Regions from separate parts of the Homo sapiens genome. Here all the other regions are reported to be linked to region 4. Evidence: microRNA targets listed by miRTarBase, many of them from high-throughput screens and not tested one by one. Region 4 holds a microRNA gene; each other region holds the end of a gene's coding sequence.

Region 1 (3,343 bases), not on the chromosome of region 4:
TAACACACACGCTGCAACCTGCATTTGCCACACAGTCCAGGGCATATAGAGCATTGTGATTCTTCACAGTCCGCAGAGACAAGACCAAAAATGAGGACTAAAAACTAAAGGTAGCTGAGTTTTTCAGATGGATTTTCACTCTGGCAAACTCAGTAGTTCACTCCCTCCCACCCCTCAAATCATTTAAGTAAAATGTTCTTCCAATAAACATAAATTGAGCTCTTCCTCTGTTATCCATCACATTCTGCCAGTTCTTTAAAACTGGAATATGGTACTAGGTACAGAAGGCTAAAGGGGTAGGAAAGCCCCAAATACTATAAAGATGCACTTATAAGCAGTGTGGGGTTATCACCACTGTCTACTTACTCTCCCATTCTAGGACACAGGGTGAAGAGACCACCTGGGTTCCCTCTAAAGCCCTGAACATTAGGACCACTGAGGAGGAAATATTTGTCCTTAAAAATAAATGTAGGTTCCCTGGATTGTTCTCTTTGGCTGCCACATTTGGAGCCTGAGTGGAGGCCCTTCAAATTAACACTGGTTCTGTAGGGACTGCCCAGTCAGGGTGCAATGGGATCAGACACAGGATCAAATCAGCCAGGGGCAGAAGGGCATGGTGGCCCTACGGGTAGAATGCACTGTATTGTTAGTTAACTTTCTAAATTGTTCTCTATTTAGCTTCAGCCTGAGTCAGGTCTACAATGGCCACTATTTAGAAAATAATTTAAATCAGTGAGGTAAGCACGCCGATTTGAAATATATCCAAACATCATTAAGCCTCTGGGTCATAAAACTTGGTCCCTGAACTAACAGGAGTATCTTACTCATTAATGACTAGGTTTGTTCCAAACGGCCCCTGCTGACACACATGATCCTTTTGTGTGGCACAATAAATCTGGTAATAGCAGAACAATAGCATGGCTTTTAAATAGGGTAATTTTATAATTCCTTAAGATGCTGGTTTGCTTCTTATAATGTGTTGTGTGGATTACAGTACTTAGACAAGGTTCACATTTACTTTAAAAGACTTCTATATTTTAATGCAAATCTAAGGATCATCCCCTTTCTTAGTTTATAGAAGATTCAAACTTTGTAAAACATAAATAACCTAGTACTCTAAACATCTGAAGCCCTTTGTAATACTCACTGTTTTTTCCTAATTTGAAAATAACTTATTTATATATCAAACATTAGAGCGGAGTGTAAACATGGATGTCAATCACCCTTTTAGTTTCATAAATTTGCTTTTAGCTTTCATCAACAGGCATATTTTCTTAACCTACCATGATCTCAAATGAGATAAAATATCCTTCTTCAAAAATTGTTAAGAATATTTATTAAAAAGTGCAATTCAAAAGTTAGCTGGGCAAGCACATCATTGCAAATCACAAAAAAGGGTGAAAAAACCAAAACCCCCAAATAAAACCACATGAAATACAAACAAAACAAAACAAAAAGGTTTAAAAAAAAAGTGTGCTGAGGAATGCACCCAAAAAGACAAGGAAATGAGAAGTCAAAGCTAGAACTCTATCCAGATGTTGCTGTTCTTTCCAAGTGCAAAAGAAGGTGGTGAGGAGAGACCAGCAGCCTCCACCACCGAGTTCTGGCTCTGGGTCCAAATACTACTTTAATATCAGATTATTCATCAGGGAAGTTATAAAAATATCCTATATACATGTGCACATTTGAGGCATTTTAAAAAGTCATCAGAAGGTTAAAGTTTAGTGTCTCAGCAGTTTCAGCTACTTAAACTCAATTAAAGCATCTATCATTTAAATTTGGATTGGCTCAGTTATTTGACTGCAGATGATAAAATCAAGCTGTCATCTTAGGGAAAAAAAAGAACCAAGTTTACCTACACATCCTTGCCATTACCCACAGAGTAAGAGAAGTCTGGCCCAGAGCTAACCTTTTATGTCATTACGTTTCTTAATAAATGTAATAAATGTACTAACCACTCCCAACCCCAACCCCCAGTGTAGAGTGCCCTAAGAGTAAAAGAACTGTAATGAGGACAATCTGGTATCCAAATTCATTCAAGTGTGTTACTGAGCTGTTTAGCAACAACATATGTAGCAATCACCCTCAAAACGCAAGCTGCACCTCTGGGGAGGAAGCCCTGGTACAGCAACATCAAGTCGGCAAGGATCAGGAGCTGACCTGTGGCGACATCATTAACCCTTCCCTAAGCTATGCCAATGCAGAACCCTCTTGCTCTTTTTAATTGCTCCTGTCAGTTAAAGCCACAAGTTGTTAGCACCCCCAAACCCCAGGGTGTTTCATTATTTTCCATTAGTTATTCTTACCACAAAAAAAAATGACCTGGAAAAGCAATTTTATCTTAGCATTTATCCCTGAAAAATGAAACACTGCATTTTCTGTCACAAACTGTTTCTGAGCCTTCTGTCCTCAATAATCATCAGCTCTCAGGGGATAAGAAATGCTACAGCAATGGGAAACGAAACATACCCAGAAGCTCGTATTCCTGACAGGTTTCTTTAGATGGGACAGCGGTGCACTGTCTGAGCACGGGGAAGGGTCTGAGCAGAAGAAAAGAGCTGCCAAAGATGCATGGAATGAGCAACAGCAAAACACCAGTGGAGTCTGTAAGTCCCTCCTCAGCAAACGAGGTCCCGGAAGGCAAGGCAGCAGCTAGTTCTCCTCCGAACTGGACAGGCGGCATGGGGCTTCTGTTGTCCAGCTGCAGCCAGGAGTGCAGACATCTATTTCCTCTTCCCACTGGCCCTTCCAGCGCTGGGATGGAGGAGCCATGTCAATTGTGGGGTCACACGGAGAAAAGTCAGTGCAGCAGTATGTTTCCAGGATAGGAATGTGAGTAGACGGCAATGTCACACGTGCTCAGCTTCTCCTCCTCCCCTCGGTTCATATGCAGGAGGAACTCGCACCCAGAGGCCCCGCCGTCACAGCACTAAGAAGAGGATGAGCACAACCAACAGGACTGCAAAGAGGATGGCTATGGCACACCATTGGCGCCGATCTGGAAGGCAGGACATGGGGATTAGCTCTCACAGGGACTCCACATTCCCCAAGATACAGTTATATGGAATTTATGGCACCCTTTGAAGCAGAAAAGGGGCAGAACGTGCAAATGACGGGGCCATGATCTTACACCTGCCTAGGTGCCTGATGCTCTAATGCTGCTCTGTTCTTGGCCTGCACTTCGCATGCAGTCACAACTTTGCCAGTCCCCTGAAAATGTCTCGTAATAATTACATGCTTTGTGTCTCAAGTCTTTAATTAAAATCTGCGGATCTTAGCTTTCTGCTGGTAGTTAGCATATCCTCAAAAAAGGTGTTGGCAATGGTGTTACAGATCAAAGCCT
Region 2 (3,343 bases), not on the chromosome of region 4:
ACTTAAGTATTGCCAATGTTTTCAAATGTGTTACAGCATTAAGGCATCCACATCTAAAGAGGCAGTTTTAAACAAGAGGAAAACGGAACTGAAATGTGCCAAGAAGTGAACACGGACATGGCCTCTCCTGGAATACTGCCCACCATGCCAGCAAGCTCTTCCTCCAGTCAAGAAGGCCTGTGCCACGCTGCTTGGTTCCCTGCTGCCTGAAGATGCATTTGAGCCCTATGAGATTAGTATGGCTATTTCTGTCTGCTGACCAGGAGAGAAATGAGTAGTTCTCGAGGCAGCAGCTTTAAAATCTGGGAAAGCCCATACATAGCTTCTGAGAGCTAAGAGGGCCCTGAAAGGTTTGCTTGTTAATAGTGAGGTCCAGAGGGGAAGGCAAATTTGGAAGTCAGATGGTTCAATCCTTGCCGGAGTTCAAGGCTCCATCCAGCAAGATATACTAGCCAAACTTTTAAGCATGATGGCAAGGCACTGCTGAAAGAGGCTTTGGCCAGTAGAACAAATTACCATTGCACACAACAATATGATAGAAAGCACTACTGTCCAAACCAAACCAGACACTACAATCTGCTATTTATTTGACAAAGTCAGTTTCCAGAGAGAATCTAGGCAACCATATAGTTTTGAAGGACTAGATGAAACCTCAAGTCTCACACCAGTCAGCTGTTAACATCCAATCAAGGAAGTCATTTGGACTTTCCATACTATACCTTCTCTTGGTAGTAAAATTGTATGCAATTGTTGCCAATGACTACATACAACTGTATCCTATTTGTGCTACTTTCCTCACTGTGGCCAGCAGAGGGCTCACAAGCTTTATTTCCACAGCTGCTGATCCAGTGACAAATTCATGAAGGAAATAAATCATAGGCATGCTAGCTTATGCGTCATAGAAAACGTTTTTACAAACTACTACGTCCACTGCCCTGAAGAAACTAGTCTTGGTTCCCCCTTAGTGTAATGTGTTTTGAAATGGTATAGAAAGTAAAAATAAATTAATAATACAATATTATACACTTATTTGACAAGACAGGGTTTACAAAAATTTTGGCAAATATGAAAAAAAAATTATCCTAGTCTGTTAAACACTTTTGCTATCTCAATTGTTTAAATTACCAGATTAGTGATTGTGTCAATTTACACATGAGGAGGTGGTATTTTAAGGGCTCAACAAAGCGGCATTTGACACAAAGGTAATTTCTTTGAAGGGGGATAAAGAATAAAGATATTATTATCTTCATTATTACAGTTCGAGAAGTGGTTGTCCTGATAAGAATTCATCCCACACAAATATTAACACCAGCAGTAAGCAGCAAATTGTGGCGAGGAGAGGCTAGAGGGAAAAGTTAGAAGAAAAGCAAAGAAAAGACGAAGAGACAAGAGACATGATTCCAATAAGCTTTAAATCAATAGGCAAACACTTCTCATTTATGATCCATCTTGCTACAGGTGGTTATGTGAGAAGACACAGTGTCGCCAAAGCTGACCTAGTATTTAGGTCCCTAGAGGGATTGCTGATCTGCTAAGAGAAATAATTAAAAAAAAAAAAAACAAAAAAAAAGGACAACCATACATTTTGGTAGTCTTTTAAAAAAAGCTACTACAAAGATATCAATAACCATCCAAAAATCACTTAAAATTTAATATCCCTTAATTTCCAAAGACACTTTGTGATCTGACTGTTCTTGAAGGAAAGCCTAGAACTGAAACTACTAGAACTTGGCTCCTCTCTAGGAATGTGGAGACAGGTATTCTGCAAAGGAGAACTTGACAAGGAATGCTACAAAATACCAGTCACCTCTTTAGAAGCTCCTCCCACCTCTCCTGCTCCATTTGATGGAATGGCAGGCTGGATTCAGAGAGGCACGTGCCAAAGGAGCTGTTTAAATCCCTCTAGACATCCCTTTTCAATGGATATCTCTTTTGAGTATAAAGAGAGCTTTCAATGTGTCTTGCTATCATTTTCCTGACCCTAATCCCAGATTAACTAGAATCACCTTTAGCATCTAAGTGAGTGGGTGCTATGACCTTCCATCAACGCATGTGGCATAGATGCTAAAGCACCAGTCTTACATGGTGGGAACCATGTTAAAAATCAATGGATAAAGTAGCAGAGCCTCTAAACTAAGAAGAAAGAGACATAGCTTAATTACAGAACACTGTATTTTCATAATCACTATTTCATTGTGAGTATGAAGTTCTCCTCTTTTCCTTAAAACTAAATTCCATCTTCCCTGAGAATAGGGTTAAGAGAAATATTAAAACGCAAAATGTCAAGGGCCTTTTAAAAGATAACACAATGGGATGTCTATAGCTAACTGCAACGTAAATGTGTTTCTACTCTAAAAGCTTTTCCATTACTCAGGTTTTAACCTCACCTCCCCTCTGGACTCTAGGAATACATGTAGAGATGCGCAAGGTGAGACAAGAGACTGAGGAAGTGAGTAGCTGTCACGTGCCGGCTGTTCTCACTGGATGGCAAACGGCCCTGGACCAAGGCTGGACCTTGAACATTTAATGCTGGTGTCCTACTGACAGGATGAGAGGGATGAGGCAACCCAGAACCAGGGCTGCCACTTCCAGGCGGCTGAGGCCTCTCCCTCCCGTGGCATCGGGCTTGTGGCTGTGCCCTATTCCGCCCACCTCAGGGAGGACATGTACTGTGGCAACATAAAGAAATGTCCCGGCAGAGAAAAGCATGGCCACTCCCGTGGCGTTCACCTCTGAAAGGGCTTCTTTACTGCTCTGTGAATTAGAAGAGAGAAAGAGGAAAAACTAAGTCAAGTAAAATTCAGGGTCAGGAAGAAGTCCCAGTTAAAAAACACTCACTGTTCTTAACTGGTGCTGTCTAGGACACTGGGGACATCTAGAGAACACAGCAACTTTAAGTTATTCATGGGAAGCTTCCAAATAAGGGTTTAAGAATATCAGTGATGTACGCAATTGATTTTTTAAAAAATTTATTGTAAATCAACAATTTATAATTATATATATTTATAGGGTATAAAGTGACATTATGATTCATGAATAAAATGTGGACTAATTAAATAAAACTAACATCTGTCATCTCAAATATTTATCATATTTTGTGGTGAGAACATCTGAAATTTACTCTTAGCAATTTTGATATGTACCACACACTATTATTAAACTATATTCACCACAGTTCCATCATTCTGTCCATCCATTCATTGACTGTATCTGTCTTTAGAGATGAGGTCTCGCTATGTTGCCCAGGCTGGAGTTGAGTGGCTATTCACAGGCACAATCATAACACACTACAGCCTGGAACTCCTGGGCTCAAGCAATCCTCCTGTCTCAGCTTCCCAAGTAG
Region 3 (3,296 bases), not on the chromosome of region 4:
AGGGCTGGGCTGGGCCTCCCTTCTGGGTGCCTGGTCCCATTTGGGCCTCACCCTGGGCAAGGTCCCCGTAGCTGCCCCTCCCATCAGGTAAGCCCCACCCCCCGAGTTTCACTCTGAGTGGTTTGTCTTTGCATAGAGCTTCCCCACCTGATGGTGACTGCCGTGGGTCCCACAGGTCCGGTGTCCATTTTTAAATTTCACTGCAGACATTGCGCTCAGGCGCCCTCTGAAACCGCCACAGAGGTGTCATCCCCAGGTCCCATCGGGCCTTTGTCTCCTGGCCTCCCCGTGTGCAGTGGTGCAGTGCTAGCTCACTGCAGCCTCCACCTCCCAGGCTCAAATGATCCTCTCACCTCAGCCTCCTAAGCAGCTGGGACTGCAGGTGCCACCTCACCCGGCTATGCCTGGTAACTTTCCTGCCACTGTGACACCAGCCAGTTCAGGCAGTCCCTCGCCTGAGCCAGGTACTCTGCGTGTCTCAGCCTAGCCCTGCTGTCCCTACCGGTGGGTGAGACGGCGCCCGGTCCCCAAGGCTGGGATCTGACGTGGGAGCGAGGCTCTTATTTGTTGCTGTGTGGCAGCAAAAGATGAAAAAGTGGACTCTGGCTTCAGAGCTGTGAGAAAACAGTGGTTTTTTTTTTTTTGAGATGGAGTCTCGCTCTGTCTCCCAGGCTGGAGTGCAGTGGCGCGATCTCGGCTCACTGCAAGTTCTGCCTCCTGGGTTCACGCCATTCTCCTGCCTCAGCCTCCCGAGTAGCTGGGACTACAGGCGCCTGCCACCACGCCCGGCTAATTTTTTGTATTTTTAGTAGAGAAGGGGTTTCACTGTGTTAGCCAGGATGGTCTTGATCTCCTGACCTCGTGATCCGCCCGCCTCGGCCTCCCAAAGTGCTGGGATTACAGGCGTGAGCCACCGCGCCCAGCCTGAGTAAACAGTTTTTGGTTGTGTTTTTTTGTTGTTGCTGTTGTTTTGTTTTTTGAGAAGGAATTTTGCTCTTGTTGCCCAGGCTGGAGTGCAATGGCACGATCGCAGCTCACTGCAACCTCTGCCTCCTGGGTTCAAGCGATTCTCCTGTCTCAGCCTCCGAAGTAGCTGGGATTACAGGTGTGCTCCACCACACCCAGATAATTTTTTTGTGTGTGTTTTTAGTAGAGACGGGGTTTCATCATGTTGGCCAGGCTAGTCTTGAACTCCTGACCTCAGGTGATCTGCCCGCCTTGGCCTCCCAAAGTGCTGGGATTATAGGCATGAGCCATGGTGCCCAGCCCGGTTTGTTGTTTTAAGCCACCAACTTGTGGGAACTGGTTATAGCAGCCACAGGAAAGCCCCTGCTGGACATCGTTATGATCCCTTTTGCCCCAGCCCTGAATATTCCAGACTGGTCCAGAACCTCAGCCCCAACTTTTCAAGTCCCTGGTCACGGCTGTCCTCTGGAAGCCTAGGGGCACACTCCTCTCAAGGCAGGAGAAATGTTAACTGTGAAGGTTAAATTGGAGAAATGTTAACTGTGAAGGTTAAATTGGAGAAATGTTAACTGTGAAGGTTAAATTGCATTATTTCTTTTATTTTTATGATTTTTTTAATACCAAAAAAAAGAGACAAGATTTTGCCATGTTGCCGAGGCTGGTCTCAAACTCCTGACCTCAACTGATCCTCCCGTCTCGGCCTCCCAAAGTGCTGGGATGACAGGCGTGAGCACTGCCCTGCCTTGTGCTTTTATTTCTAAACACATTTTCCTAATGTATTTTTCTGATGACTCTCAAGGGGAGGATGGCTGTTTTGGCTGGGTGTGGTGGTGCACACCTGTAGTCCCAGCTACTCAGGAGGCTGAGCGGGGAGGATCGCTTGAGCCCAGGAGTTTGAGGCTGCAGTGAGCTATGATGGTGCCACTGTTCTCCAGCCCAGGCAACAGAGCAAGGCCCTGTCTCTAAAAAAATAAATATTAAAAACAAAAACAAAAACAAAACAAAAACAAGGAAGAGCAACTGCATAGCTGCCTGACAAAACGAGAGCGTGGCTCAGCCCCACGGCCCTGCGCGGCCTCCCTGGAAGCCCCTGTGCTGTGCCGGGCACTGGGCTCCCCATGCAGGTGCTGCGTCTGCCCGGCTCTGTGCTCTGAGTGCATGCGATGTGCCCGAGGTGTCGGGGCAGGGAGGAGGATTGATCTCGATGGTGACCCAGTGAGGTAGGTGTCATTGGCCCCATTTTACAGATAGGGAAACCAGGGCATCAGTGTGACCTGGTCTAGGCAAGGCCTTTGCGGCAGACCCAGATCTGACTCAGCCCCGAGGGTGCAGGGAGCTGGCTTTCTCCGCCAGACAAGCAGGCCAACTGCTGCACTCCCCCCTCAGTAAGGGGCTAGGGGTGGGGACCCCACCCTGTACGGACCCCTCACCAGCATCTCCCCGAGGATGCCGCTGGGGACTCCTGGCACCCCTTGCCTCTGCTGTGGCTGTGTCACACCTGTCCTGCCAACTGTTGTTCTGGGCGTGGACATTTGGGGCTCCCCGTTGAGGACGCCTGGGCTGCGCTCTGGGAGCCAGCAGCTGGCCACCCTGCCCCACGGTTCCCTAGAGGCCCTCCAGCTCAGCACAGACCCAACCCCAGATGAGGGCGCCTGCCCCCTTGGAGGTGGTAGGCTGCCCTATGCCCTCCTGGGCGCTGCCACAGTGCTGGGTGACCTCCAGCATGGTGCTCACTGACATTCTGAGGCAGGAGCCCAGAGGGCCCACAATGCACCACCGCATCCAGGCAACGCTTGCAGAAATGCTCCGCAAATAAAGTCATCGCCACTGATGCGAACAGGGCAGCCACCAGGTACCTCTGCCAGCAGGCGTGCTACCTGCCCACAGCCAAGGGAGCCAGCCAGGCAGGCTGCTGATGAAGAGGCCCCACTGCCTGCCACATGCTCTCTGGGCTCCCGGAAGCCTGGAGGTGTCGCTCCTCCCCTTGGCATGCAGCCACCTTCCATGTGGGAAAGCCTGGGGCCAGTGGTCACGGAGGGAGTGGCTTCAGGAACGAGAAATTGGTAGTTTGTCTTCCAGAGGGGACATGGGCACTGTGGCTGGTGGGCTCAGTGCACAGGAACCACATTGCTGGCCCCAGGACCCCCAACCTGCCATCCCCCTGCCACACAGTGGGCTCAGCAGGACTCCTCAATCAGCCTCTTTGCAGGGCATGGTGACCCTGGTGGGTGCACGGGCCTGGAGAAGGTGTAGTGGTCTGCAAGGGCCACGGGCGACTGCAGCTCCTCGGTGTCCCTGCTGTGGGTGAGCCTGGTGACGTCTGTCTTCAT
Region 4 (3,343 bases):
AGGACTTCGGACTTTGACTTTTATGTGACCTGACTCAGGTCTCATAACAGGCTTCCTTTGGTTGTCTCGTGGGGGAGTGGAGAAAGGAGAGACTGAAGGCAGGGGCTAGAGCAGAGACTGGGGCTGGGGCTGCTATGAAGATGCAAATGGCAGACGATGTTGGCTAGGACCAGGGTGGGGGTCATGGTGGGGGCAGGTGGATAGTGGATCTATTTTGCAGGTGGATCAGACAGGATTGCTGTTGGACTGGGGTGTGGATTTGAGAACAAGGTGTCAAGGGATACTCCTGGGTGTCTGGCTTAAGCCCTGGTAGATGGTGAGAAGTGCCGTTTTCTTATATGAGGGATTTTTTGGGGAAGGGGCAGAGAATCAGATCTGGCTAAAGGAAGGACCAGAGATGTTGTTCTTTCAGTCTCCAAGACTGTTTCTGCAAATGTCTCTTCACTGCTTGCTCTTGGTCTCTGCCCCTCTGCTGCCTTTGCATCTCAGGGGTTCTGACTCCCTCTCGCCTGATCCTCTTCTACTTATTAGGGCCTGAGCCCTTTCCCACAAGGGAAGCAGTTTCCTGGAAGAGGAGACCAAATGTCAGTGAGCAAGGGGAGTGGGCCAAGGAGGCCTGAGAGCAGGAGGGAGGCTTGAGGAGGGTAGAGAGAAGGGAGAGGAGGGAAAGGGGCTTCAGAGGGAGAGAGAAGAGGAGAAGGAGTAAGGCTAGGGGGAGGAGGGGAAGAGGACAATGGGGAGTGGGAGGGCAAGGAAAGGGTGGAGAGGGAAAGAAGGACGGAAAAAGGGAGAGAAGGGAGACGGGAAGGAGGAGAAAGGGGGTAAGAGACGGCAGGATGGGGAGGCTGGAAGTGGGAGAGGAGTAATGAGGGAGGGGACAAATTGGAGGGGGAGAGAAGAACAGAAGGCAAAGGGTGTAGGGCGGGGCAGAAGGGTGCAGAGGAGGAAGTGAAAAAGAGGAGGAAGGGTGAGGGTAGGGAAAGGAGAGAAGAGGGAAGTGAGAGGGAGGAGGGAGGAGTGCGGGGCAAGGAGAAAAAAGAGGGGTCGCAGGGGGCGAAGGCTGGGCGGCAGGGCCGAGCCGCAGGCGCTGACGCAGGGCGGCTTCCGGGCGCGGGGCCCCGGGGTTGGTCCCGACGACGCTGGCCTTGTATGGTCTGAAGACGCGGCTCCCCCGGGGCCCCTCCTAGACGCGCGGCCCCTACCCACACGCCCTGGCCTCGCGGGGCCGACCCTGGTCGGTGTGCGAAGCCTCGGACTTCCAAGGTTCGGAAATGCCAAGACCCGGTAATTCCCGGGCTCCAGGGTCCCGGGTGGCCAGAAATCTGCAACTCCGAGCCACCAGGGGTCTAGAGTCTAAAGCGCTAGGGGATGCAACCTGTGACTCCCAAATGTTGAGATCCTAGCCTCTTGAGACCCTAAACCCGCTTCCCCAACATCCAGAAGGTGTCGAAGCCCCCCCGGAACCTCTAGTCCCGAAACGGGTTCCGCTACCCCAGGCTGCCCCGCCCCGCGCCCGCCCCCGCTCGCTCTGGGCGCGCGCCCCAGCACATTCCGTCCTCCCCACCCGGCCCCTCCCGCCTCCCGCGGCCCCGTGGGGACGGAAACATCCCGTCCCCGACCGCACCCGCCCGAAGCTGGGTCAAGGAGCCCAGCAGGACGGGAGCGCGGCGCCCCCGACGCCCGGGAACTGGCTCCCCCGGTTCCCATCTGGTGACCTCACCTGGTCCCACCCTTTCAGGTGAACGGCCAGGCCCGGTGACGTCACTTCCTGCCAGGTAAGCGCCGCGGGGCTCGGAGAGGAAGAGTTAACTGCACCCAGCTTCCAAAAAGTCACCCCCTCCCTCTCCATTCCTGTCTCTAGACCGCGAAGAAGCCAGGATCCCAGCTTACACTCAGATTGTTTATTTAAAAATGCCCAAAACACAAAAATAGACTTTTAAGGTAATAATATATATTACTAAATATATTATAGTCTACTTATAATAATTATATCGTCGTTTTCAATATTACAAAAAAAGGAAGAAAAATACAAGGGAAGCAGACGACCCAATATATATAAATACTATAAAATCATATTAGAATAAATAAAGTCGTCATAAATAAAGGGCCCATTGATTTATGGGTGGGGTTTGGCAACGGCTTTGGCTACTTGCTTTTGGAGGGTAATTTGAGCACCAGGATTCCCCCTCAGGAGAGGTTCCAGTTACCAGGAGACACTGGAACCTCAGGTCTATAAAAACTGGAGGGGCAGTGAAGGCCTATTATTCACAGCACATAAGATTCTAGGAGACAGATTTGGGCAGGGAAGAGGTGGGGGAGAGGGTTCATTGCCTCCCTTAAATATGCTACAATTTTTTTTCCCCCAAGAACCTCGGAAGACACTCCATCCCCCACCATCATGAATACTGAGCTTGCACACTTGGGGACCTGCCCCAGCGTGAGGTCAGGGGAGTGGGTTAATGCATTCTGGAAAAGGGGATTACTTGATTACTGTCCCCCAAGTCCCCACAGCCCTGGGGTCCATGCAGAGACCACAGTGCAAGAGACGTGGCTCCCCGCTGAGATCCAGCTGATCTGACCGGGCAGTCACTTTGTCACTCAGAAACAGAGATGCGATTGAAGATGGGGAGTCGCCGGGGGGCTGCCACGGGCTGGGGTGGTGCAAAAACTCCCGCCTCGAAGACGGGAGAGTCAGAGCCCCCCAGGCTGCTGCCGCTGCTGGCATATTCATCAGGGTCGGATCCCAGGGACTGTACAGAGGGGGTCCGAACCAGGCCACCCAAGGGCCCCCAGACGCTGATAGGAGTGGCCCTTCGGCAGGAGGGGCAACAGACTGGGGTGGGGTCTCTTCGAGCCAGGGGGGTGCCAGGGGCAGCAGAGAAGGCAGAGGGTGACAGTGGAAGGTCCCCAGGTGGTGGTGGGGAGCTGGAGGGCGAGAAGGAGCTGGAGGACAGGGAAGGGCCGGCCAGGCCTGGTGGTGGTGGTGAGGTCCGGCGGCCAGAGGGCAGGCCGGAGAAGCTGATGCTCTGGCGAAGCACAGGAGGGTGGCCCGGGGCCGCCAGGTCTTCGCTAGGGTTGTGGATGAAGTGGCAGCGAGAGCCGTAGGGGCAGCGGCCCTGGAGGTAGAACTTGTGACAGAGTTCCGTCTTGTATTTGGGGTGGCGATTGGCCTGGCGCAGCTCGCCCAGGCCATGGGCAAACTGGCACTTGGCCCCGTAGCGGCAGCGCCCACTCTCTGAGAAGGTCCGACATAGCTCAGTCTTGTAGCGCGAGGGGGTGGTGGAGGTTGCAGTGGGCGAAGTGGGTGAGGGTGACAGCTCAGGGCCCAGGCGGGGAGCCAGCG
Region 5 (3,343 bases), not on the chromosome of region 4:
CCAGCTCCCCGGCCTCCCCGCTGCTCGGGGGATACACAGTCTTGGCCTCTTCCGGCTCCACCTACCCCAGCACAGTGGAGATCCACCCGGACGCGTCCAGCCTCACGGTCCTGAGCACGGCCGCCGTGCAGGACGGTAGCACGGTGTTCAAGGTGGTCAGCCCGCTACAGCTGCTCACGTTGCCTGGCCTGGGCCCCACCCTGCAGAACGTGGCCCAGGCCTCGCCTGGCTCCAGCACAATTGTGACAGTGCCCGCAGGGGCTGCCCCCGGGCCTGAGGAGCACACGGCCACCATTGAGGTGGCTGCCATGGCAGAGGACCACGAGCGGAAGTAGCCGACAGGAGGGCGAGGCCCCTGGGACGGACAGGGCTGGCTGTCTCTCAGCCGCGGCAGCAGGGAGCGGGCAGAGGCCGCAGGGCTGGCTCGGGCAGGTGGGTCACGTGGTCTGCAGAACCAAAGAGAGGAATCGCCAAAACAAATCACGAGAAGAGAGAAGGGGACAGAACAGCGAGAGCAACCTGGAAAATCGGTCTTCAGGTCCCACGTTTCCTCCCCCTTTTTTCTTGGGAAATATATTTTTCCATCTGTTGCTTATTAATACTGTTTACACATTGGGCCTTGATCAGGAGCCAGGTGGGCGGGGGCTAGGGGGAGCCTGGGTGCAGCAGAGACAGAGGAAGCAGAGCCAGGTGCCGAGCGCGACCCTGCAGGTGCTGGACGCGGTGCAGCAGGTCACGAGGCCCCCATGTCTGCACCCAGCCAGGTCCCTGGGGACGTTACTAACTCATGACTTGGGAGCTAAGCCCAAGTGTGAAACCTCTGGATCCTATGGATTTGGTTTCTTCCCACAGTTTTCTGTAGGTTTAGTGTGGCTGGCGCCCCGTTCTCCTCCAGTTGGGAACATGCACCCGGAGCTTGGGGTGCAGATCCTGATGGGTGCCTGCCTCCCCCGCCCCCAGCCGGTGCTCAGGTGGCCCAGGGGCCGCACAGACGAGGCGTGGTCCAGGCATTGTTGCACATGTACTGAGGGTGTTTTTAAGTGAATTGCTTAGTAGGCTTCTAGGAAGAGTCAGATTTATAGCATTTTCAACCAAAATAATGGTGAGTGCCTAGGCTTCCCGAGTTAGCTCTTTGGGTGGCCCCTGAGCCCCTGTGAGTGCACTTGACCGGGTGCGGAGGTCCTGGGCAGCCTGTCCCTGAGCCGGCCCCTCCCAGGGGTCTGAGATCCATGAGGTGTGTCCCTAGGGCTTCAGTCCTGGGGCAGAGGCATAAACAGAACCAGTCACTATGGAGGTCGAGGATTCCCATGTGGGCCCTTCAGCTTGGGCTGCTTGGCCACGGAACAGCCCTTGGCTCCCTGGCCCCCGGCCCCCATGCAGCCCCTGGGCTGGCCCTTGGTGGTCTCTGTCCAAGGGAGAGCCCCTGGGTGTTCAGGAGGCTGCCCCGGGTGGGCTGCTCAGGGCAGCTGCCGAAGGTGGAGCCCAGAGCCTGTCTGGAAGGGCTGTCTGTGGCTGTCCTGAGACCTGGCCTTGGACTCACAAGGAAGACCAGGCTGAGGCCCCTCCAGGCCAGGGTCCTGGGGCAGGCATCTCAGGGAGCAGCCAGCCCAGGCCTCCTGCCGTCTCCAACAGGGCATGTCCCGGGAGGACCCTGAGTGCCAGATTCCCCTGGACGCTCCTGCTGATTCTGTCGGCAGTTGAAGGCCCGTCTGAGGCCCCGCAATGCGAGGGTCCTGTGTCCCACTTCACTGCTCCGAAGGGAACTGGCTGGCTGTCCGTCCAGTGAGCGGCCCAGACCCCACCTCTGCGCCATTGTCACCAGGGCCCTGTCCTGGCTGCCCTCACCCATGTCAAGCTACTGAGGCTGTGTCTTGTTTGTTTTCTCTGTTACATTTTTGTTTGCTGTTGTCACAGTCAGCTGGTTTCGGCGTGATGTTGATCTTTTGATGTACATACTCCGTTTTAAACTCATTTCCACTCTAGTTGAGTTCTGCAGCATGCAGCGGTATGACCCTACGGGGGTCAGGAGAGCCCTGCGGCCCCCACCCACCAGCTCAGAACCTGTCACTAATACAGCTGCCTGTGACCCTGGGACCCGCAACCTTCCAGCTGCTTCCCTTTGTCAAAGTCACGAGTGCGTCTGCCTTGACAGCCCTCGTCAACAGAACTTCCAGTGGGTTGTGGGTTCATTTCCTTTCTTTTTAAGAACAGGGTTGGGACCTTTTCTGCCCCTGCCCCTTAGCTACTGAGGCATAGGGAGAGGAAGTTAATTTCAGAGCCATACAAAAATAAGCCACAACCAGCTTCAGAATTAATTCCCAATCCCCCATTCCACCAGGGCTGGGAGCCCATTCCCAGTGCTTCCCAAGGCCCTCGGGGACATCTACCGCCAACCCAGCTGCTTCTGGCAGGGGCTCCAAGCCCCAGCGTGGGGAAGGGCCCTGGAGAAGCCCTCATCCTCATGGGAACCACACTGCAGTGGGTGGGGAAGGTTGTTGTCAGCACCGCCCCCGGCTCCTCCAGGTCCTGCTGGCTCCTCGGGGGCAGGGTTCCCTGGACCTCCCAGTTCTGCGCCTTGGGGCCAGCCAGTACTCAGAGAGGAGGACCTTCTCAACCACGTACAGAACACGGGTTTTCATGGCTGCCTTTGGTTTGGTTTTCTGAGAAGATAGGATTGGATTGGATTTTGCAGAGGGTGAGAACTTCTCTGTGCCTGCTCAGAGGCGCCCTAGGGAAGGGCCATGTTTGAGTTTTGCTTTGTATGTTGTTTTGCAAGTATCTGCCTGGTACTTTGATTTAAAATAAAAACAATTTTCATAGTTTGAGTGTCTATCTCTTGGAATGAAGTGTGGAGAGAAATCAAGTCTATAAACACGCCCAACGCAAACAGCGCTGGCTGCCACCCCCGCCCCGGACCACTCACACCCACATGCTTCGTTCTTCCAAGTGTGGCCTGGGGGCTTCAGGACCCTTCCAGGGTGTCCCGAGGTCAAAGCTGTTTTCATCACAGCAGGTGCCCTGTGCCCTTGTCCTTCTCTCCCCAGCACGCATCGGAGTTTTCAAGAGGCCTGGTGGGAGGATCATGGCCGTTTTAGTCGTTAGTGCTACTGTAACAAAATACCGCAGGCTGGGGGGCTTGCAAGCAACAGAGGTTCATTTATGCAGTTCTGCACGCTGGCAAGTCGGAGATCAAGAGCATCAGCCGATTTGGTGCCTGGTGAGGGTTTTGAATCAGCCGATTCGGTAACTCGTGAGGGTTTTGAAGGTGTCCTGCAAATCGCTGGAGGACAATAGTAAGAACAGCCTGGGCCCCACCTTGACCCGAGGCTGGCGTCGGAGGCAC
Region 6 (3,343 bases), not on the chromosome of region 4:
GCACCTCCTCAGTCATTAAGACTGTTATTTTATTGTACTCTATCTTCAAATTAGTAGCTGGTTAAAGAATACCATGCTAATGGTATTTGCTGTGCTTCTGGAGATAGTAACATTCTCAAAATGTGAGCAGGTAACAACTTGGGTTTTGAAATCTGTCTCCTTGACTTACACCAGACATGGTGCATCCCATGCCTTACAAATCAAATTTACCTTTTATTTCAACAGCAAATGTTCCTTAGAGGGATTACCCTCTATATCTGTGTAATTTTTTTTTTTTACTTTTGCACATGAGAAGAAAATTTGTATGGAATAAATTGGGTCTAATGAGTGACATCATCATGGCATTGCGTTGGATTTCCCATAAAGCTTTTCTTATAGAGCTTCTGTTAAAGTTTAAGCAGCCTGCCCTGTCATCTTCTGCAAAAACCAGCTGTTTTTTTCTCTCTCTCTTTTTGATGTTGTATATATTCCTGCAGAATTCATTAGGATGCATTGTACCTCCAACCCCGATTGGTGGATGCCCTCGGAAGAGCAGATAAACAAAGTGTTCAGCGACGCTGTCGGTCACGCCCGACAGGGGCGGGCGGTGGGGACTTTCCTGCACAACGGTGGCTCATTTTATGAAGGGATCGATCACCAGGCTTCTCAGGATGAAGTCTTCAATAAAAGTTCCCAGGATGGATCTGGGGATTAGTGGACAGAATCTTCCTGTTGTAGCAGCTGGTCCTCTCAAGAGTTCCAATTGTGAATGTCCTGTTCCTGTCACCTGAGAGTCCAAAGCCTGTCATTCTGCCATAGTCTACACATTCTCAGCTGCCACAGTACCCAAATAGAAATCCATTTTAGGGTTGTTTGGGAAGTCTGTGGCACCTACAACAGACTTTTGGAATATTATATTATAAAAAGAAAAAACTACATCTGATTTTTAAATGATTACTAGCTAGATCATGAGGGTGAAAAAATAGGTGAGCTCCTAGTTACCTTTCTGAAATCTTCAAACTCTGCTACCTGGGCAGAGATAGTCCCCAAGGTAGGCTGGGGTAGTGTTTCTGCCCATGGGAGAAGGTGGAGACATGGAGTTGTGTTAAGGGACAAGAAGCAAACATTCTCTTAATTCAAATAAGTTGTCTTTATGTTTTCCAAAGACTTGACTTCATATTTCTCGGCAAAGACATAGGATAGATGACATCATATACCATTTTGACATTAATAATGTCTATTACTAAAAGGAAACCAGAGAACAGAGGCAACATCTGCAGACAGTGATTAATTACAGGTCAACTGTTTTTCTGTTGTTTAAAAACCACTGTGTTGATCAAGAAGGCACTATTTGATCTCTGGAGTTTACAAACAGTAGTCATTTTTCATTGTTAGTCAAGAAACATCCAAAGATCCAAAACCATTTTCAAATGCTCAGTTTTGTAGGTTAATAAATCCGCAGTTTCCATAGCCTTAAATCAGGCTTTGTTGACACAATGCCAAAGTGATGGGTAGAACAATGAAAATTTAAAGCAATTAGTTGTTTGGTGCACTGAAGACCAAACAAGTGGTGTGACTGATGGTATTCGCTGAATTGACTAGATGTTCTGGCATTGTATACACACAGCTTCAAGGCGATTCTGACAACTATGCAATGGGCTTGTCAGTAATTGCTCTGAAATTTGAGGGTCTTTCTCTGCTGAGCTGATCTTTAGAATTTGTATGAAACTTGTTTCCCATTGTCCTTGATGAAAACATTTCATCCCCTCCGTGCCTCCTTTACCCCAATGTACCCCTTAGCTATGGCTAAGTCAGCACTGTGCCGCTATCCCCTGGTTAATTTGTTGAGTTCCATATGTGAAATTAGTGGTATCTTTGGAAACTTTCCATATTGGCAAATGCTATAGAGGTGCTAGAGTCATCATTTCTGAGGGCTTCCTGTTTGGACTCAGGAGAGGCTTTCTTTACCAAACTAGTCCAGATTACTACATTCTTTGTAGAGCAAAGGGCTAAATGGACAGCGTTTATTGAAGGCTACTAATGTCATCTACAGACATGACCAAGGGTTTTTGAAAATTGGTTGGAGATTCAGGTTAATGAGCATCCATTGATAAAGGGTTTTTGGGCTATTTTTGTCAACATAAACTCATAAATTGTCCTTTAGATTTAATATTTAGTTTGTATTCACTATATACAAAGTCCTAGAAACAGGTCTTTCTGTAGCTTTTGTTTATTAGCTTTTTTGTATTACTAGAATTCATCCATTGAAAAGTTTAATGTTTATGGAGGTGGTCATCTGTCAGATCTGCTCAATGATGTAGTGGGCACTAATATTTCAATCCTGTTTTGAGAAAATTAACTAAAATTTGTCATATCATTCAATGGAATAGGGAGAACCAATATTCAATTCTATTTGGGGCAAATTAGCTAAAATTTGGAAGTAAAAGAAATGATATGGGCAAATGCCATGTTCTTACGGCAGCCATGAGACCAGTCTCTTTGGCTCTCCAAGGAAGAAAGATACCTCTTAAAGCATTTTTTAGAGGTCCGAGAAGTCAGTGTCTGTCTTATAAGATTCTTTGACAACATGACATCTTCGCTAGAAGAAAAACACCACCATAGCCTCATCTGTTTTTCCATCTTACCTTAATTTTTCATTGGCCTTAAGTTGTCCTTACTGCTGAATACATCGTTCTGTTTTTCTAAAGCAACAATATTTGATCACTGCTTTTAAGAAAAACAGACTAGCCCTTCTTGTTTTTCTGGAAGTTTGAGAGTCCTGAATATTTCTTCATATCCAAATATCATCTTGGAGCCCTATCGTGCTGGTCTTCGCTGAGGCTGATGAGAGCACTTTCTGCACCCCTGCTCCATGGCCGTACATGACAACGCACCTGCACCACTGCTGCAAGGGCGGGGGGCAGCAGCCTGTGTTTTGGCTGTCACTGTTACCTCCTGAGAAGGCTGCTGTCCCAGGTTTGCACACCACTTTTGTTCCAAAGTTACACATGGTCTCTTCCTCCCTCGCACCCATTCCAGGTTAATCATTTCTCTATCAGCTGTTTCTCCATCCACAGATTCTGAATGTTGAGACTAATTGTTGGGCATCTCTTTTGCACAAGGCTGACAGACTCCATACTCAGCATCGCACAGCCAGTTCTAACTCCTCTGCTGGGTCTCGGACCTACAGCTTTTGCCTGAGTGAAATGTTCCTACGACTTTTGCTCCTGAGTGAGATATTCCATTGTACTTCTACTGTTTGTGTATCTGCTGGGTTCCTTTAGCCAAGCCTAGCGTCTGACGCAGGCACTAGCCGCCACTGAGGCCGTGATACAGCATCACTGTGGACACTGCTGGCTCCTCT
Region 7 (3,343 bases), not on the chromosome of region 4:
AAGGATTTGAAATGACGCAGTGGAAGGCACCCAGATGAAGGACAGGCGCAAGTGAACGAGCCTCAAATGCATACAGACTCCTGCATTTTAGCATCCGGATCCACCATTCACGGCAGAGCTAGACCCTGACACCAAAAATTGAGATGACTGATATACCGACTAGAACTCCAGACACCATCTTGTGATCCATCCCCCCACTCAGCAGAGGCCTAGAGAATGAATACCAGCAATGTCAAAAAAACAAACAAAAAATTCCACAGAAAATCTCCCCAGTCATTTGATTGTATAAATAATTTATTTCTGTTCACAGCATCATATATGCATTATAAAAGGCTATGGAAACAAAAGAGAAGGATGATGAGACAGAGAATTACAGCAGTAGAAAGGAAAACAGAAACCAGGGCACACAGTTCCAACACCAGAACAGAGAATTTGGGAAGATAATTGCTCTGAAACAGAACTGGCCTCCCTGTGTCTATTAGAAAACATTTCCAAAGCTCACGGAGGGAGGCCAACTTCCCCTATGGGAAACCCATTCACTCGCCAAAGGGCAGAAGGCATCATAAATCACCCATTGATACATTGGTGGGGGGCTCCCTGTCCCCCTGGTGACCACTCCAAGGTGATTTGATCTGTGCTTCCTCTGTTGGGTCAGAGACGAAACGGGCTATTATTAGGTCAAACATTACAGAAATCAACTGAGACTCTTAACTAGTAGTTGATACACCACAGGGCTTTACTTTACTGCACAATTACTAACAGTTGATTGCACCCTTAAGTATTGATTATGCAAAAAACAAAATCATCTCGCATCAGTTTTAAAGCATGACAGGGTTTGAACAGTGATCTTGAACCTAAGTATTGTTATCATGAGAAGGTTACAGTATTTGGCATCTGCAATGTCACAAAATAAATATATTATTCTCTCAATAGTGTGGAACTACCAAAATGTCAAAGTGCTTAAGAAATTGTCGCATGTGAAGAAAATAAAGAAAGATGGATTTTTTTTTTAATAATTCTATACAGAATCTTCAGATGATGGGACCAGCCCATTTAGAAATCAGTGGATATGCTGTCGATATGTAAACTGAAATCTTGCAGGCTTTTCAACACTGCTTAGCTAGACTTTCTCTACTGAGTTTCTACAAAAAGACCAGCATTGGAGGGGTACCAAATACACCGACAAAAGAGAAAAAGCAGATGGGCTGCTAGGTTTCTGCTTTTAAAAAATTTCATATAAGAATTGGGTTTCAAGCAGGAAGCCAGAACTTCTGCCTCTGGTTCTTAAATTAACATTCGGTGTGTAATGGACAATAGGCAGGGACTCATAATTTGACTAACTCACATGCTCAAGCATGATCGTGTCCAATTTCTACAGGCCTCCTTTGTAAAGAAATGTGTAACAATGGGGGGAAAGTCATAATTCTACCTGAAAACATGGATTGTAAGAGGAAATAAAAAAATCAAACAGTATGTTTTAAGTTTCCCTTTTGATACTGTGTTTCAGGGTAAGTGACAGCTTCTGCAAACCAAGACTCAGTCCTGATTATAAAGGATTTTTAAAATTACATTATTAAAAATATGTATTTATTCTTCTTTCACTTTATCTATTTTCCAAAGCCTCTTTCAAGTAAACTGTGAAGTGCCTGAGTACCAGTGACCATGACGTCACACTTTCTTTTATCTCAAGCACTCATTGTTGTTTGCATTTGCCCAAAGTGCTGGCTGGCTCCGAAGGCCAGTTCCCACAAGAATGAATTCGGAAAGACTTCATCCTTGTGTTTTTCCTTCTCTTTTAATTCCATGCAACGAGGTCAGCTTTTGCAACAAGGTGGGGTTTTATTTTTTTGGTGCATGACATCAAATACTCTAACGAGACATTTTTAATGAAAGACTTAAACCAGATAGGCCACAATGAACCAAATTAGAAATCTGAACATGTCACCACTTGCAGCATAAAGGAATATAAAAGGGCAGAGCAAAGTCTTTTTTCCTAAGGTGAATATTTCTAAGGTAAGTATTCATTTGTAAAAGTTTTTTTTTTTCATCATGTCTGAAAACCCATTATCACGCGGTTAGTATTACAAGAGACATCCCTTGGTTAAAAAAAAAAATACCATCTTGCAATTCAGCACACACCTGCAGCTGGTGTGCTCATCCAAACCAATCAGTAGGCTAAGAGAATTTAAAATTCCATACATATGAGTCTAGGTATTAATGCCGATTACACAGTACACAGTACAGAGGGAGGTCCCTATATCCACACACACACACACCCCATCCAGCATTTACACCAAAAGCCTTACCCTTTAAACACCTTTAACTATCCTGCAAACAGTAAATGCATCATTGGCCACCACCTCCAATAGTTCGTCTTTTTTTTTTTTTATTTTTTTTATTTTTATTGGTCTCTTTGTGTGATAATGACCTACACATGGACAGGGTCCAAACCATCTGGAAGATGTCTGATTCCAGGCTGAAAAGCAGTTCTCAACAAAACTGGTCTTCTGCAGCCACCACAAAGCACCAGGAAAAGGGCACCTCCGCGGCCATCCCCAGCCAGGCCAGCACAGCGCTCCGTGCCCGCTGAACCGTCCCAGGCAGTCCTCTGATGACCCAAACCACCACCACCTTTGGGCCCAGAGCAGGACAAATGAAATTTCAACAGGGGCCTGCCCTGTGACCGAAAATTACTCAGCTTCACAGCCCCTGAATGCAAGGAGAGGTGGTCCCCCCAGAACCAACATGCCCCCCAAGGTGGGTACGCCCACGGTTCTGGGAAATGCATACCTCAGGTAATTCACAGGTGCGATCCCCCAGTGGAGGCGGGGCAGCCTGAACTTCTGGCCCTGCAGGAGTGGGAAGAAATCGCTTTTGTCTTTCCGACAACTGAGCCTTCCACCTGGGGCTGGGAGGGCGGACAGCAGGACCGGCTCTTCCACTCCCCACCGCGGCCCCCCGACCTGGTCAGTAGCTCTGGCGTTCAGACAAAAGGTCCCCTGAGCTGGGGGTGGGGGGCAGGTCGAGAGTAGGCCGGTAAATCAGACTTCGCAGCTCCTTAAGTCACCAGTCCTGCATTTGGGTGCAGAGATTCCGTTTTAAAAATTCGAAGCATCGCTTTGGTTCGCTCTTTGTTCGCGGGCGCGGGTTCTCGCTCATCCATCCATCCATCCATCCAACCATCCATCCATCCATTCATTCTTTCTTGACGCACTCGCTCGCTCCCCGGTCGCTCCGGGCGCATTACCGCTTCTTCTTCTGCTTGAGGGACTTCCTGCGTTTCAGGATCATCTCATAGAGCTTGTCCATGCCCTCGGTGAGGCCCTCGCCGATGATGGCGCAC

What was found. The annotated mature microRNA hsa-miR-4530 reads CCCAGCAGGACGGGAGCG and lies in region 4 at 1,648-1,665, shown strand. An mRNA with a match to its seed (bases 2 to 7 or 8) in the 3' UTR can be bound and repressed. Matches are read on the target gene's strand: a 7mer-m8 pairs with bases 2 to 8, a 7mer-A1 pairs with bases 2 to 7 and ends in A, and an 8mer does both.
Region 1: miRTarBase lists STX6 as a target of hsa-miR-4530. Seed matches in the 3' UTR shown: 7mer-m8 at 1,581-1,587.
Region 2: the mRNA of SLC39A9 is a reported target of hsa-miR-4530. Seed matches in the 3' UTR shown: 7mer-m8 at 1,309-1,315, 7mer-m8 at 805-811 and 7mer-A1 at 435-441.
Region 3: miRTarBase lists GPR132 as a target of hsa-miR-4530. Seed matches in the 3' UTR shown: 7mer-m8 at 2,828-2,834, 7mer-A1 at 2,684-2,690 and 7mer-m8 at 2,541-2,547.
Region 5: miRTarBase lists GMEB2 as a target of hsa-miR-4530. Seed matches in the 3' UTR shown: 7mer-A1 at 713-719 and 7mer-m8 at 2,527-2,533.
Region 6: miRTarBase lists BEND4 as a target of hsa-miR-4530. Seed matches in the 3' UTR shown: 7mer-m8 at 3,148-3,154, 7mer-m8 at 3,247-3,253 and 7mer-m8 at 3,330-3,336.
Region 7: miRTarBase lists ARL4C as a target of hsa-miR-4530. Seed matches in the 3' UTR shown: 7mer-A1 at 2,281-2,287.

Annotation. Positions count from the first base shown.
Region 1 is chr1:180,973,649-180,976,991 of GRCh38, forward strand. STX6 (syntaxin 6) reads right to left here. Exons shown (of 8, transcript NM_005819.6): 8 at 1-2,998. The coding sequence ends at 2,922. Among named protein-coding and RNA genes, the nearest start is that of KIAA1614-AS1, 20 kb to the left of the region's middle.
Region 2 is chr14:69,457,774-69,461,116 of GRCh38, reverse strand. SLC39A9 (solute carrier family 39 member 9) reads right to left here. Exons shown (of 7, transcript NM_018375.5): 7 at 1-2,754. The coding sequence ends at 2,524. Among named protein-coding and RNA genes, the nearest start is that of PLEKHD1, 25 kb to the left of the region's middle. RefSeq lists a silencer at 780-829.
Region 3 is chr14:105,047,851-105,051,146 of GRCh38, forward strand. It overlaps GPR132 (G protein-coupled receptor 132), which reads right to left. Exons shown (of 4, transcript NM_013345.4): 4 at 1,545-3,296. The coding sequence ends at 3,144. The region is part of intron 1 of LOC124903398 (a long non-coding RNA gene); the gene reads left to right. Among named protein-coding and RNA genes, the nearest start is that of GPR132, 16 kb to the right of the region's middle.
Region 4 is chr19:39,407,951-39,411,293 of GRCh38, reverse strand. MIR4530 (microRNA 4530) reads left to right here and starts at 1,616; the gene lies at 1,616-1,671. It overlaps ZFP36 (ZFP36 ring finger protein), which reads right to left. Exons shown (of 2, transcript NM_003407.5): 2 at 1,887-3,343. The coding sequence ends at 2,595. RefSeq lists silencers at 884-1,203, 1,554-1,613 and enhancers at 1,266-1,856, 2,119-2,756, 2,757-3,343.
Region 5 is chr20:63,587,081-63,590,423 of GRCh38, reverse strand. It overlaps GMEB2 (glucocorticoid modulatory element binding protein 2), which reads left to right. Exons shown (of 10, transcript NM_012384.5): 10 at 1-2,819. The coding sequence ends at 335. Among named protein-coding and RNA genes, the nearest start is that of HELZ2, 15 kb to the right of the region's middle. RefSeq lists enhancers at 1-96, 2,014-2,183, 2,777-2,946 and a cis regulatory region at 2,861.
Region 6 is chr4:42,114,869-42,118,211 of GRCh38, reverse strand. BEND4 (BEN domain containing 4) reads left to right here. Exons shown (of 6, transcript NM_207406.4): 6 at 477-3,343. The coding sequence ends at 694. Among named protein-coding and RNA genes, the nearest start is that of BEND4, 36 kb to the left of the region's middle.
Region 7 is chr2:234,492,765-234,496,107 of GRCh38, forward strand. It overlaps ARL4C (ARF like GTPase 4C), which reads right to left. Exons shown (of 2, transcript NM_001282431.2): 1 at 3,248-3,343; 2 at 277-3,072. The coding sequence ends at 3,042. Among named protein-coding and RNA genes, the nearest start is that of ARL4C, 2.6 kb to the right of the region's middle.